2 separate regions of the Homo sapiens genome follow, and region 1 is linked to region 2. Evidence: fine-mapped expression QTL. Tissue or cell type: testis. Region 2 holds a variant in brackets; the other region holds the start of a gene. All regions are shown on one strand. Distances are from middle to middle.

Region 1 (6,211 bases), 55 kb after region 2:
TCCAAGAATCTAGGCGCAGGTTAGCCTTTATAGTTCAAGAAACTGGGGTGTAGAAAAGTTTGTTGTCAGATGAGTTGGAGACGATCTTAAGTCCCATCCAGTTCTAATAGTCTAAGCTTTTAGAATCCAAGGAGTTGACTCTTTTGACAACCTAGGAATTTTGAAATCTGCTTTACTTCAAGCTGTACTGAAGCCTTACCCAAATTTGGGGGAGTGAAAGGAGGGAAGGGGAGAAAGCCAGACAAATGGTCAAATCAGAGAAGAGAATGACAGAAGACTGGCCAAAATTAGCCTATCCATAATAACTCTATCCCGAGATCATCAAGAACTTTATCTGGGCCAAGGAGTTTATCCTCCATTCTGAAAAGAGGAAATACAACGTAATAGCAAGAAAATATAGACAGAGCCTGAGGAAAAAAATAAGTTATCCTTCACTGCTCTGGCAAAGCAACTAGTAGGCCTTCCTAAGAAAGCAGTGGGGCCTGCCCAAAAGTGTTCTGGAGGTCACAGAACTGCCCTGTGTCAGTGTCTCAACTCTAGGCTGTGACCCCGAACGAGTTACTAATAACCTCTCACTCCTTTCTCCTCACCTGAAAAAGAGGATCCCACACGTGTCCTGTAAGGTTGCTGTGGGGATTGGAAATAATATGTTAAAGGGCCTGTCCTTAAAAACCATCCTATAAGTGATACCACGCTGTGATCTGAAAAGCTCATCTGAACCTTTTATCCTTTTCAATTCATATCATGTAATCCTTCTGTCTAGACTGCACATAAGAATTACAAGTAAGTCTGAAAAGCTCTGGCTCCTTCCTTAAAGAACTCTATCCTCTCGCTTTCCCTAAAGTGGAAGAATCTCTGAGTGATATGAGGAAAGGATTAGCAAGCCAAAAGGGGCAGGTGCCACCCAGCCCCATCTTACAAGAAACTGGACTGTCAGCGCTCTGAGGGCAGGGACTGCTCTGTTTAAACCACGACTGCACACACATTTTCCTAAAGCAAGCTAATTGCAGACTTAAGCCTCTCCGAACAGCTTACATGACACCCAAACATGGACCCACAATACATTTTGTGTCGCACAACATCAAGTCACACAAAAATCTCAAAATTATACATTACAATACAATTTAATTGTGCTGTGGTATTAAAGTCAAAGACAAAGGCTTTAAACCGAGTGCCTATGAGGTAACCACAGTAAAGTCACACCTTTAATAATAAGGGACCAAGAACACACGGGATGGCAACAGGGAGTGAGTGTCCAGCAGAGCCCTAGACGGAACTGGCGCAACCGCTCCAGATCGGAATTCGAACCCAGAACTTCTGGCGAAGGCCATGTAAGAACTACTCCAAGGAGGAAGAGGCCTTTACGGCCAGGTGCACCTTGCTGGAACTTTCTGCCGGAGGGGACCCCCTCCCCTCGGCCTGGGCCCCAAGCCCCAAGGGCGGCCGCGTGACGCGGTGGGAAGGACGAGGGTCGCCAGCCCCTTCTGCTCCGCACTGGGGTAGGGGCTCGGCGCTGTCTCGGAGAAAGGCCAGGCTCCTTCCAGTCAGGGAATAATGACAGCTCGCGCGCTCGCAGCCCGCCCCGCCCCGCCTCACCAGGCCCGCAGGCGGCTCCTCCCGCCCGGCTGAGGGGTCCGGCCGCGCCCCCTCCTCTCCCCGCCCTGGCCCGGGGTGCCCCCCGCCCGCACCGCCAGCCTCACCGGGTCGGAGCTGGAGGCCGCCGTCGCGGCGGCTGCACCACAGCGCGCGCTCGCCCTGCTGCAGGATGTAGTGGTCCTTGGCTTGGAAGAGCTCCATGCTGGCCCCGCGCGCCCAGGGAGGCGGCGGCCCGCGGGCGGCGCACGGGGCGTCCTAGTCGGTCGAGGCCGCCAGAGCCCGCGCCTCGGGGAGCGGCCGGGTAGGAACCGCGCCGAGAAGCAGCGGCAGAGGGAACGCCCCGGGGCACCCGACCGGTAGGAGGAGAACGCGCCCCGGCAGCGGCGGCGGCAGCGGCGGCCGTAGAGGCCTCTCCCCCCCGCTCCTCCCCTTCCCTGGCTCCGCCCCAGGCCCGGCTCCACCCCCTCTGCTGGCTACTCTCCCCGAGCGCCCGGCTCCGCCCCTCAGCCTCCTCCTCCTTTCAGCTCCCTCCCGCTTCCTGCCCTTTCCTCCGCCTTCTCCCGGGTGTCTCCTCCCAGCTCCTCCCCGCGGGTCTTTCCTCCTCCCTCTCGTCCTTCCGCCCGCCCCTCCCGCTCTTGCCCAGGCCCCTCCCCCGGCGCGCCAGCCTTCCTGTCGTGGTCACCGGTGGCAGCTCGGGAGCTCGGCCGAGTCGGTCTGGACTGACCGCCTCCCTCCGCGCGGCCTTGGGGACAGGCGCCCACCGCTGGGGCCTCCCCTCCGTGCAGGGAGGCGCTCACGCTTCGCCAGGCCGAGACCTGAATCCAACCCCACACCCGCTCTCCCGGAGCGGTGCGGGGTACGTTCCCCGCGGGCCTGCGCTGCCTGCCCGTACCGAAACCAGGCGAGACCCCGGGGCCTGGCTACAGGGGTTCATCCCCAGCCAGGCCCACAGCCAAGCGGAGGCGTCTTCTGTTTTCGTATTCCCTATTAGAAGTTTGACAACAGGAGGCATTCAATAAATGCACATCAACGAGGGAAAGCATGTAACAATAGAAAACACACAAGCATTAGCAGCACGCGGCTAAAGAGCGAGGAGGAAGGGAGGAATGTACAGGTGCTGCTGTGTCCCGAATTAAGCAGGGCGGTTTGGAGAAGACTTCACAAATGGAGCCAGTTAATGAAGCAAGCGGAAGGAATATCGTTTGGCGAGGATAAGATGAATGGAGACCCTCTCGGGGAAGGAGGAGTCTCCCCCAAACATCCTTGAGCTCAGTCTGTCTTGAAAAACCAGTTGATATCCTGAACAGAATGGGTCTGGAGAATGAGGCCCCCACTTCCGGGGCCAGTTCGAGGACTATCTAGCTGTGTGATCTTGGGGAAGTCTCTTGGTCTCAGATGGTGGTTGAACTAATGACCTTTTATGACACCCCCAGTTCTATAAATCATTGAGTCTTCCTACTCCTAACTCCTTGCCTTCTCTAATGCCTGAATCGGAAACAAGAGAAAAAGACAAGAAGTAGGAGATGAGAAAAATAAGGCAATACTTTTTTTTTTTTTTTTTTTAGTTTAGGAGCGGAAGTTTATAGGCAAAAGAAAAGGGAGAACAGCTGTCTCTCTTGCGAGAGAGAGGAGTGACCGAATGGGACTTCTCAGAAAGCAATACTTTTAACCTTCTGCTCAAGTAAAAGTGAGAGGGTACAAAAGCAGGAAGGAGTTCCACATGACTAGTTATTCCAGCCCACAGTGTTGAATTTCCATAGCACAGAAAGTCCAATGATAACAAAGCGTCCTGGAATCTTTTCTAAGTACCATGCCTCTGTGCTGTCCAGACACCTCAACATAAAGGTCGAGGGAGGTGGTTACTCTATCAAATCTTTGTGATGTGATTTGGAGAAAGAAGGTAATGAAGCTATAAGAAGCTTCAGTGGAACCATCGGTTTCAGATTGATTGTTTAATTCAGCCATGTGTTGACTTAGCAAAAATGAGAATGAGAAAATCCTATGAAGACATTGTATCCTGCAAATTATTTCATTATTGTTTTATGAATTACATTGCCAGATGTGAAGAAAACAATGCTGTTGTAACTGTTTTAAAACAATTAATTAGTTCATTGAAACTTTTCCTGATGTTTTAGATCCATGGTTCCAACCCTGGCTGCCTATTAGAATCACCTGGGGAATTTTTCAAACATATCAATGCTTGGACCTTAGACCAATTAAATCAGAATTTAATTGGGGTGGGGCTCTGGCATCAGTTTGTTTATTTTTTCTAAGCTCCCCAGATGACTTTACTATGCAGTCAGGCTTGAACACCACTATTTTAAGTGAAATTAATTAGTAAAATCTGCCTGACAGCAGCTTGGAAAAAAACAGCAGTCAGTCATTAACTAATGCCATCATATGGGCTTGGTTACCTGTAAATGCAGAGTTAACAAGCAAAGTCTTTAGGAGAGAGGAAAACATGGAGGGGAGATGCTTCTGTAATTATCTGACCCCAATGCACACTGCTGTCTCCCTCAGGCTCCAAACACATGCTGTGGGGTAGGCACAGCTCTAGCCTGGCTGAGCAGAGTGAAAAGAGCACATATTTTCTGTCCCTGGTAGATGTCACATCCCCAATCTACTGCCACAGTTGCCTTGCCTTGTTTCTGCTATGAACTTCCTGAACCTTGGCCACTGCAGCCTCTCCACTCCCTGGCTAGCCTATCCTCGGCCTGTGGCTAACTTGCCAGCCTCATCACCCTCTTCCAGCTTCCTAATTCAAGGTCCTCCTGCCCCGATGCCACCCAGGTTTTAATGGAAAGTTCACGTGATGCTGCTCTCCTTTTTAAACACAGATGACCATCATACATATTATATATCTTCTTTTACGTGTATGGCATATATATGCTAATTTAAGTATAATCACTAAGGAGTTTGGTTCTAGCCAGTTCTGTGTGATTTTGGTCAGTTCACTCAATCTCTTTTGATCTCAGGGTCCTTATTTATGAAAAGAGATGATCACTAAGTGTTCCCTTCCAGTGCTGAAATCAATGTGAGGAAATGTGTCCACGTAGTTAAACCTACACAAATGATGGTAAATAAGCCAACTGTGATTATCGATTTAGCCCTTCAATATCTCTGAGATCTTTGGATTAGATTTTGGTATCCTCTGGTGAGATTTGACTTTAACATCATCTCCTGTCTTCTGTCTACTTGTCCATAGTCTTGTTTGTTGTCTGTGATAACTTTCTTCAGTCTTGTCTATGAGAAATCTCCCAAAAGAAGAGATTTATATTTATATAAATATATTCCCCCCTCCCCCAGCCTGCCTGGAGGCTGCTAATGTTGCAGGTCAGCAGTCCAGGTGGCTTAACTTTGTTTTTTGTTTTTTGTTTTTTAATTTTTTTTTTATTGATAATTCTTGGGTGTTTCTCACAGAGGGGGATTTGGCAGGGTCATGGGACAATAGTGGAGGGAAGGTCAGCAGATAAACAAGTGAACAAAGGTCTCTGGTTTTCCTAGGCAGAGGACCCTGCGGCCTTCCGCAGTGTTTGTGTCCCTGATTACTTGAGATTAGGGAGTGGTGATGACTCTTAACGAGCATGCTGCCTTCAAGCATCTGTTTAACAAAGCACATCTTGCACCGCCCTTAATCCATTTAACCCTGAGTGGACACAGCACATGTTTCAGAGAGCACAGGGTTGGGGGTAAGGTCACAGATCAACAGGATCCCAAGGCAGAAGAATTTTTCTTAGTGCAGAACAAAATGAAAAGTCTCCCATGTCTACTTCTTTCTACACAGACACGGCAACCATCCGATTTCTCAATCTTTTCCCCACCTTTCCCGCCTTCTATTCCACAAAGCCGCCATTGTCATCCTGGCCCGTTCTCAATGAGCTGTTGGGCACACCTCCCAGACGGGGTGGTGGCCGGGCAGAGGGGCTCCTCACTTCCCAGTAGGGGCGGCCGGGCAGAGGCGCTCCTCACCTCCCAGACGGGGCGGCTGGCCGGGCAGGGGGCTGACCCCCCCACCTCCCTCCCGGACGGGGCGGCTGGCCGGGCAGGGGCCTGATCCCCCCACCTCCCTCCCCGACGGGGCGGCTGGCCGGGCGGGGGGCTGACCCCCCCACCTCCCTCCCGGACGGGGCGGCTGGCCGGGCGGGGGGCTGACCCCCCACCTCCCTCCCGGAAGGGGCGGCTGGCCGGGCGGGGGGCTGACCCCCCCCACCTCCCTCCCGGACGGGGTGGCTGCCGGGCGGAGACGCTCCTCACTTCCCAGATGGGGTGGCTGCCGGGCGGAGAGGCTCCTCACTTCTCAGACGGGGCAGCTGCCCGGTGGAGGGGCTCCTCACTTCTCAGATGGGGTGGTTGCCAGGCAGAGGGTCTCCTCACTTCTCAGACGGGGCGGCCGGGCAGAGACGCTCCTCACCTCCCAGACAGGGTCGCGGCTGGGCAGAGGCGCTCCTCACATCCCAGATGGGGCGGCGGGGCAGAGGCGCTCCCCACATCTCAGACGATGGGCGGCCGGGCAGAGACGCTCCTCACTTCCCAGATGTGATGGCGGCTGGGAAGAGGCGCTCCTCACTTCCTAGATGGGATGGCGGCCGGGCGGAGACGCCCCTCACTTTCCAGA
Region 2 (7,818 bases):
TGTAAATTTCTAAAATTTTAATCTCTTGAGAGAAAGGTGTACCAAACTATTCACTGAGATAGGACCTGGAAATACTTTCTCTGTAGTTACTTTTACTCCCAATTAGCAAGAGTCGTTACGTATACTCAACTCTTAACGTGAACCACGATCTCGCTGGCCCTGAGAAGTACGGTAGTTTATACTGTACAGCCCAACAGCTGTAAAAATAATTATGTCAATGGAGGAAATCTCACTTCCTTTTTATTTGAATATAATCTCTTTCCCTTAGACTATCGAGAGAGAAAAAAGGGAAAGTATGAAGAATAAAGAAGCTCTTAAAGCTTTGATAATATTCACACTTTTGCCCTTAAAGACTCCATGTAAATGTTAGTTCCTAAAGCCATCTTGGTTTTTTCCCTTTTTATTGAATAGTCAGCTACTAGTCTCAAAAATGTTACAGATTGGTGGCCATGAAGGACATCAGAACACCTCCCTGAAAGGCCTAACAAAGGTCCCAACCTTTTCTGGATGATGTGTGACATTTAATTTCCGAAGAACTGGGAGTGCCAAATATGCAAATCATGACTGGCAGATGGATAAAGTGCTGGGCGGGCTGGTTCCCATCTCTAAATCAAACTGCCAGAGACCCCAGTCTTAGTGCTCAAACCTGAATGCCAGGCCAAAGGGGTGCCCACCCTCAAGGGAAAGGTCTGTGATAACAAGCCATCCTGATCTTTCAGTGTGTCAGCAAAACCATCCAAAAGACACTGCCAGCAAATTTACTGGCTTAGGAAACTAACAAAATTTTTGCTAGTCTGGCTGCTCTTCACCCAAAAAAAATGCAGACAAAAACTGCAAACATCTGCTTTTAATAGGCCTAATTGCCACCTAGGTTTTTTGTCTCTCGATCAGCAATAGTGAATAGTGTTCTAGCATAAGTACCAATAAAAGGAGAATTAAGAACTCCAAACTTTTTTCGATTCCTGTAACAAATAATTAATATCAGAGTCCACTTAAATTCATTTTGTTTCTTAAAATTCAATTGTCAAACTTCCAGTGACATTTGAAGCATAAAAATAGTTTTATTTTTACTTATTCTTAAGGCAATTTAACCCTGTCCCCAAAGTTCCTCCCCAAGAACTCTACATGGAAAAACATGTGTTGAGTTGTGGGGCAGTGTGTGCTTTGCTGTTACCTGATGTTCAGGTAACAGGGCGGCAGCTCAGCAGAATTATATAGGACCAGGCAGCCTGAGTCTAGATCCAGGCCCCACCTCTGCCAGCTGTGTGACTTAACCCTTGCCAGGCCTCCTTTATTTGTTTTTATTTTATTTTCTAAAATCCATTCACTCATTAATTTTTTTTTTCCACAAGACAAGGTCTGGCTATGTTGCCCAGGCTGGTCTCGAACCCCTCAGCTCAAGCAATCCTCCAGCCTCAGCCTGTCAAAGACAGGAGCCACCCACCTAGCCTCCTTTATTTGTAGTAATGTCTACCTCATAGGGGGGTCTTGGGGACTAAATATTATCATCTATGTAATACACAGGGCCCACCTGGCACATCACATAGTGAACAAAACAATCGGAGTGATGACAATTACTAGGCATCTAATTCCCATACTAAGAGCAAACAGGACATAAATGCTTTCATGGGTTACTTCTACTAGGAGGCAGCACCTTGTGGTAAAAAACACTAGCCCTAGACAATCTCATTATTCCATCCTTAAATCACTCTACTTGTGGACTTGAGCTCTTCTCTGGAAAATAAAGAGATTACATTAGATGAGTGACTGTCTTCCTTTTAAAAAACTTTCTTTGTAAATTTTAATAGAGTAATATATGCTTAGAAAATTTTCAAGAAATGCAGACAAAAGAGGATATAATAAGAGCTCTCCTTTTCTTAACTCACTCCTTTTCCCTAAGAAGTTTTCAAACTGTACTGTGCAGAGCCCTAGGGCACCCTGGAAACAGAAGGTGGCTTCCCAGGAGAGATCAAGTGGACAGAGCCCCAGGGATTCCCCCAACACTACTGCGACCACAGCAGCCCTGCCTTTATGTGTCTTCTACACTAGATTTCATGGATTTTGAGACAAGAGTTCCACTACTAAGTTGGAAAATCTTAGGATTAAATTATTTTAAAAACATTACCCAGCTCTAAAAATGTAAGTTTCTGGTCTACTGAACCAAATCCTCATATTTGCTATTACATTTATATCAGGTTTCCATATAATTTCCCTTTATTTCACCTACCTCTAGCTCAAGATCCTGAGGTTCCATTTCAGAAAGTGAGAGCACAGCAATTTTGGTAACTTTACAGACCTCATGGTCTCCTGGGAGTTTGCCCACCAATGCTTTCTGCCGAATTAGAATAAGCCACCATGGAAGATCTGAAAGAGGAGAGTCATAATAAAGTCTGGCGTTTTTAGAGTGCTACTGTTCTGACAAGTTGAAGGTGAATAACCTAACAATGATAACAAAAAAAAAAGTGTGCATCCAAAATAAACTTTTAAAGTAAAACATGTCACAAAGACATAAAATGACCCTTAAACATGTGAAAAGATGTTCAATCTCACTCATAATTAGAGAAATGTAAATTAAAACCAGTTGTGACACCATGCTCACCCATCAGATTGGGAACAATTAACAAGAATGACAACACATGTGCTGGCGAGACTGTGAGAAAACTCAAAACAGCTGTGCAGGTGAGAATACCGATGACAAACACAACTTTTCTGGAAGGAAATTTAGCAATACCTAACAATACAACAAATGCACTTACCTTTAATCAGTCCAGTGATCCCATCTTTGGGAATTTACCCTGAGGGTACACCTCAACAACCAAAGTATATACACTGAAGCCTATTTTATAATTACAATAAACACTGGAAACAGCCTAATGTCCAGATACAGGACAGTGGTTGAATAAACTATGGCACATCCATGCAATGGAGTACTATGCAGCTGTAAAAAAACAAAAAAGTATTCTATGAATTAATAAGGAAGGATTCCTGGATGCACTTAGTAGATAACCTGAATATATTATTAACATACAGCCATCCCTCGGTATCTGCAGGGGACTGGCTCCAGGACCCCCCGTGGATACCAAACTCCACGGATGCTCAAGTCTCTCATGTAAAATGGTGTAGTATTTGTATATAACCTATGCACATCCTCTCATATACTTGAAATAATCTCTAGATTGCTTACAATACCTGATATAATCTAAATGCTATGGTAAACAGTTTTTAAACTGTATTGTTTAAGCAATAATGATGAGAAAGAAAAGTCTATACATGTCCAGTACAGATGCAACCATCTTTTCCAAAAATTTTCCATGTGTGGTTGGTTAGATCCACAGACACAGAACTCAATGGATACACAGGGCCGACTGTACATAATAAGGCTATGTTATAATAACATAATAAATATATGTTTTGTTTTGTTTGAGACTGGGTCTCACTCTGTCACCCAGGCTAAAGTGCAGTGGTGCAATCTCAGCTCATGGCAGCCTCTGCCTCCTGGGCTCAAGCAAACCTCCCATCTCAGCCTCTAATGTAGCTGGGAACACAGGCATACACCACCATGCCCAGCTAATTTTTGTACTTTTTTTTAAGAGATGGGGTTTTGCCATGTTGCCCCAGCTGGTCTCAAACTGCTGGGCTCAAGCAATCTGCCAGCCTTGGCCTCTCAAAGTGCTGGGATTATAGGCATGAGCCACCGTGCCCAGCCAATAAAATATATTATTAAATCAAAGCATAAAAGAATACCTAGAGTGTACTACCCTTCATGTAAGGAAGAAAATATGAGGTGATATATATCTATACAGTCACATACCACATAATGATGTTTCAGTCAACGATGAGCTACATATGCAGTAATGGCCCCTTAAAATTATCATGGAGCTGAAAAATTCCTATCAC[G/A]TAGTGACATCATAAATGTAGCATGACACATTTCACATTTGTGTGATTCTGGTATAAACCTACTGCACTGCTAGTGATAGAAAAGTATACAACATACAATTACATCTATACATAAGACTTGATAATAATAAATGACTGTTACTGGTTTACATATTTGCTATACTGTACTTTTTACCATTATTTTAGGTATACTCCTACTTATAAAAAAAGTTAAATAAGGGTAAAAAGAAAATATTTTTGCACAGCTGTACAATGTGTTTGTGTTTTAACCTAAGTGTTATTACAGAAGAGTCAAAAAGTTTTAAAACATTAAAAAGTTTATAAAGTAGAAAAGTTACAGTAAGCTAAGGTTAATTTAGTATTGAAGAAAGAACTTCTGGCAGGGCATGGAGGCTCATTCATGCCTGTAATTGCAGCACTTTGAGAGGTCAAAGTGGGAGGATTGCTTGAGCCCAGGACTTCAAGACCAGCCTGGGTAACATATGGAGACCTCGTTTCTACAAAAAATTAAAGAATTAGCCAGGAGTTGGGACACGCACCTGTAGTCCCAGCTACTCGGGAGGCTGAGGTAGGAGGATCGCTTAAGCCTGGGAGGTTGATGCTGCAATAAGCCATGGTCATGACACTGCACTCCAGCTTGGGTGACAAGGAAAGATCCCGTCTCATAAAAAAATAAAAATAAAAACCCAAAAAAATTTTTAAAAAAGAAAGAAAAGATTTTAAAGTCAGTGTCGCCTACATGTATGATGTTTATAAAGTCTATAGTAGTGTACGATAATGTCCTAGGCCTTCACATTCACTCACTGACTCATCCAGAGCAACTTCTGGTTCCGCAAGTTCCATTCATAGTAAATGCCCAATACAGGTGTACCATTCTTATCTTTCATACCATATCTTTTGTACAGTATTTTTACTGTACCATTTCTATGTTTAGATGAAATTGCCCAACAATGCATTTCTCATTAAGTGATGCATAACTATATGTATCCACCCATTTGTACAAAAACAAGAAGAGGAGAGAACCAGAAGTCAGTGAGATTAGTTATCTCCACAGAGTAGGTGGAAACGGGGTACAGAGAAGAGGGGGATGGGAATAGGATAAAAGAGATGAAGGGGAAATGACAATTCTCTGAGTATGCCCTGGCAAATGACTGGTCTCTGAGTAGAATTCTGACTCTTAGAACAACGGTAATGTTTCACATATCCGTTAAAATAAATAGTTCAAATCAACCAGAATGTGGGAGAACCTCAAACTGCAAATCCAACTCTATTAAAAATTAAGAATAGAACTAAACTGTAGGAGATAGAGAAGAAAAAACTAACTGAACTAACTTCAGAAAACTATTTGGTAAAAATAAAGACAAAAAGAACCGTATGCACTACTGTACTCTGGTTACTAAATTTATTTTTCAGAAGAGTATGGGTTGGTAATTCTCCAACTACTTTGTGTGTACACTAGGATTGAACAGAGAACTAAATATAATGAGGAGAATGGAGGGAAAATGGCAAAACAACCTAAAGAAACCTTTAATAAACACAAGACAGAAAGAAGCAAACACCCAGTCTTTCCAATCCAAATTTCTACTTCTCACAAGAGATTTTTAATTAAACAAAAAATAGTCTATGAAAGACAGCATGCAAATCAATTTTTCAGTTTATGAGACTACACCATTAAAAAGTACTCCCCAATTAGACCCCAAACCAAAAATTATTGAAATTGTGTTTCAGGAATTTATTATAGAAAAATAACACCATATATTTCCCATATAAAACAATTTTTTTAAAGGATATATAGGCTGGGTGCAGTGGCTCACACCTATAATCCTAGCACTTTGGGAGGCCAGGGAGGGCAGATCACATGAGGCCAGGAGTTCAAGACCAGCCTGGCCAACATGGCAAAATTCTGTCTCTACTAAAAATAACAAAAATTAGCCGGGCATGGTGGTGCACGTATGTAATCCCAGCTACTCGGGAGGCTGAGGCATGAGAATTGCTTGAACTTGGGAGGCAGAGGTTGCAGTGAGCCGAGACGGCACCACTGAACTCCAGCCTGGGCAAGAGAGTGAGACCCTGCCTCAAAAATAAATAAATAAATAATAAAAATAAAAAGGATATATAATATTTTCATTTCCCTCATTTATTCCCCAAGTACTGATCAACTTTCATTTTAGAAATGGTGCTTTGGAGATATGCTTTAAGCGTTTCATAAATGCAGAAGTTTGGAAACATTTCATAATTCCTTATAAAGTAGGGTGGAAATTTACTCCAAAGTTTTAAGGCTTTTATAGGCCATTTCCCTATTATCATTAAACATTAACTGAAGACCTACCATGTGCTAGGAAATTCATCAGGCATGAATGGACATTACCAAGCATCTTGTAGGTGTTATGTGAAACATTACCCTTTAGGTGCTTGGTAACAAACCTAACATGTAAATCTTCTTAAAAAGCACATAACAGATAATAAACTGTTCAATGTCAATAAATTTTGTTGAATAAAAAGAAATCTTTACACTAGGTCTCTTAACATCACAGGAATAATTTCTAACTTATATTATTTTATTTATTTATTTATTTTGAGACAGAGTCTCGTGCTGTTGCCAGGCTGCAGTGCGGTGGCGCAATCTCGGCTTACTGCAACCTCTGCCTCCCAGGTTTAAGCAGTTCTCCTGTCTCAGCCTCCCAAGTGGCTGGGACTACAGGCGCCCGCCACCACGCCTGGCTAATTTTTGTGGGTTTTTTTGTTGTTGTTATTTTAGTAGGGACGGGATTTCACCATATTGGCCAGGCTGGTCTCGAACTCCTGACCTTGTGATGCGCCCGACTTGGCCTCTCAAACTGCTTGGGATTACAGGTGTGCACCACTGCGCCCGGCCATTTCTATCCTACAGTGAACAATTTAGAGTTGGGCCAGGCATGGTGGGTCATCCCTGTAATCCCAGCACTTTGGGGGGCTGAGAAGGGAGGATCACTCAAGGCCAGGAGTTCAAAAACAGCCTGGCAACACAGCAAGGCACCAGCCCTTTAAAAATTGTTTTTAAAAATTAGCTGAGGCCAGGTGCGGTGGCTCATGCCTGAAATCCCAGCACTCTGGGAAGCTGAGGTGGGTGGATCGCTTAAGCCCAGAAGTTTGAAACCAGCCTGGGCAACATGGCGAAACCCCATCTCTGCAAAAGATACACAAGTTATCTGGGCATGGTGGTACATGCCTGTAGTCTCAGCTACTCAGGAGGCTGAGGTGGGAGGATCATTTGAGCCCAGGAGTTCAAGGCTGCAGTGAGCTATGACTGGATCACTGTACTCCAGCCTGGATGACAGAGCAAGACTATGTCTCTAAAAAAAAAATAAACAAGAAATCTTTATGACTCAAGGACCTCTCTTTCTCTCTCTCTCTGTGGGTCACACACACACACACAAACACACATACACACACACACACAGAGGAAGGCCCTTCCTAGTTTACATCTTCTTGCCCTGATTTGCTCTGGATTCATTTCATATCGACATTACAAATTATGATTTTAATAAATTCAATAACAAAAATACAATGTACATTATCAAATATAGTATCTTTCCAATAAACCATCTAAAGGTATAGTACCAAAAATATAAAATTTTTAACTTTCAAACACAGGTTTTATCTCATATACAAACTCACCTGGAAAACCAAGAGGCATCTTTTTTCCCACAAAAACATGGTATTGCCAATACTTAAACTCAACTTACACATTCAAATATATTTTAAAATAAATACACATTTTTTTAGAGTTAACTACTCATATACAAAAATGTGAAAAATCTATGTGCTTCTTTTTAAAAGGTTACAGATATTCAATATGCCTTGCAGTTATGATGAAGATTAAATCTGAGAAAATATAATGTAACAGAAACAAAGCTTTGTCAATAGTAGCCTTCCTTTTTC

Which allele goes with the higher level. Positions count from the first base shown, and alleles are read on the strand shown. Sizes are in standard deviations (SD) of each study's normalised expression.
With allele A in place of G in region 2, the expression in testis of the gene that starts at base 2,010 in region 1 is higher (large effect, 1.2 SD a copy in GTEx).

What was found. PIP is the estimated chance that this variant, and not a neighbour inherited with it, causes the effect.
Region 1: INPP5F starts here. The variant in region 2 is fine-mapped to the expression of INPP5F in testis (GTEx, PIP above 0.99).

The regions. Positions count from the first base shown.
Region 1 is chr10:119,721,849-119,728,059 of GRCh38, reverse strand. It overlaps INPP5F (inositol polyphosphate-5-phosphatase F), which reads right to left and starts at 2,010. Exons shown (of 20, transcript NM_014937.4): 1 at 1,701-2,010. The coding sequence starts at 1,797. RefSeq lists a silencer at 1,582-2,351 and enhancers at 2,962-3,011, 5,814-6,211.
Region 2 is chr10:119,776,181-119,783,998 of GRCh38, reverse strand. INPP5F (inositol polyphosphate-5-phosphatase F) reads right to left here. Exons shown (of 20, transcript NM_014937.4): 3 at 2,228-2,364. Among named protein-coding and RNA genes, the nearest start is that of INPP5F, 54 kb to the right of the region's middle. The variant G/A (reference allele first, on the strand shown) is at 3,898.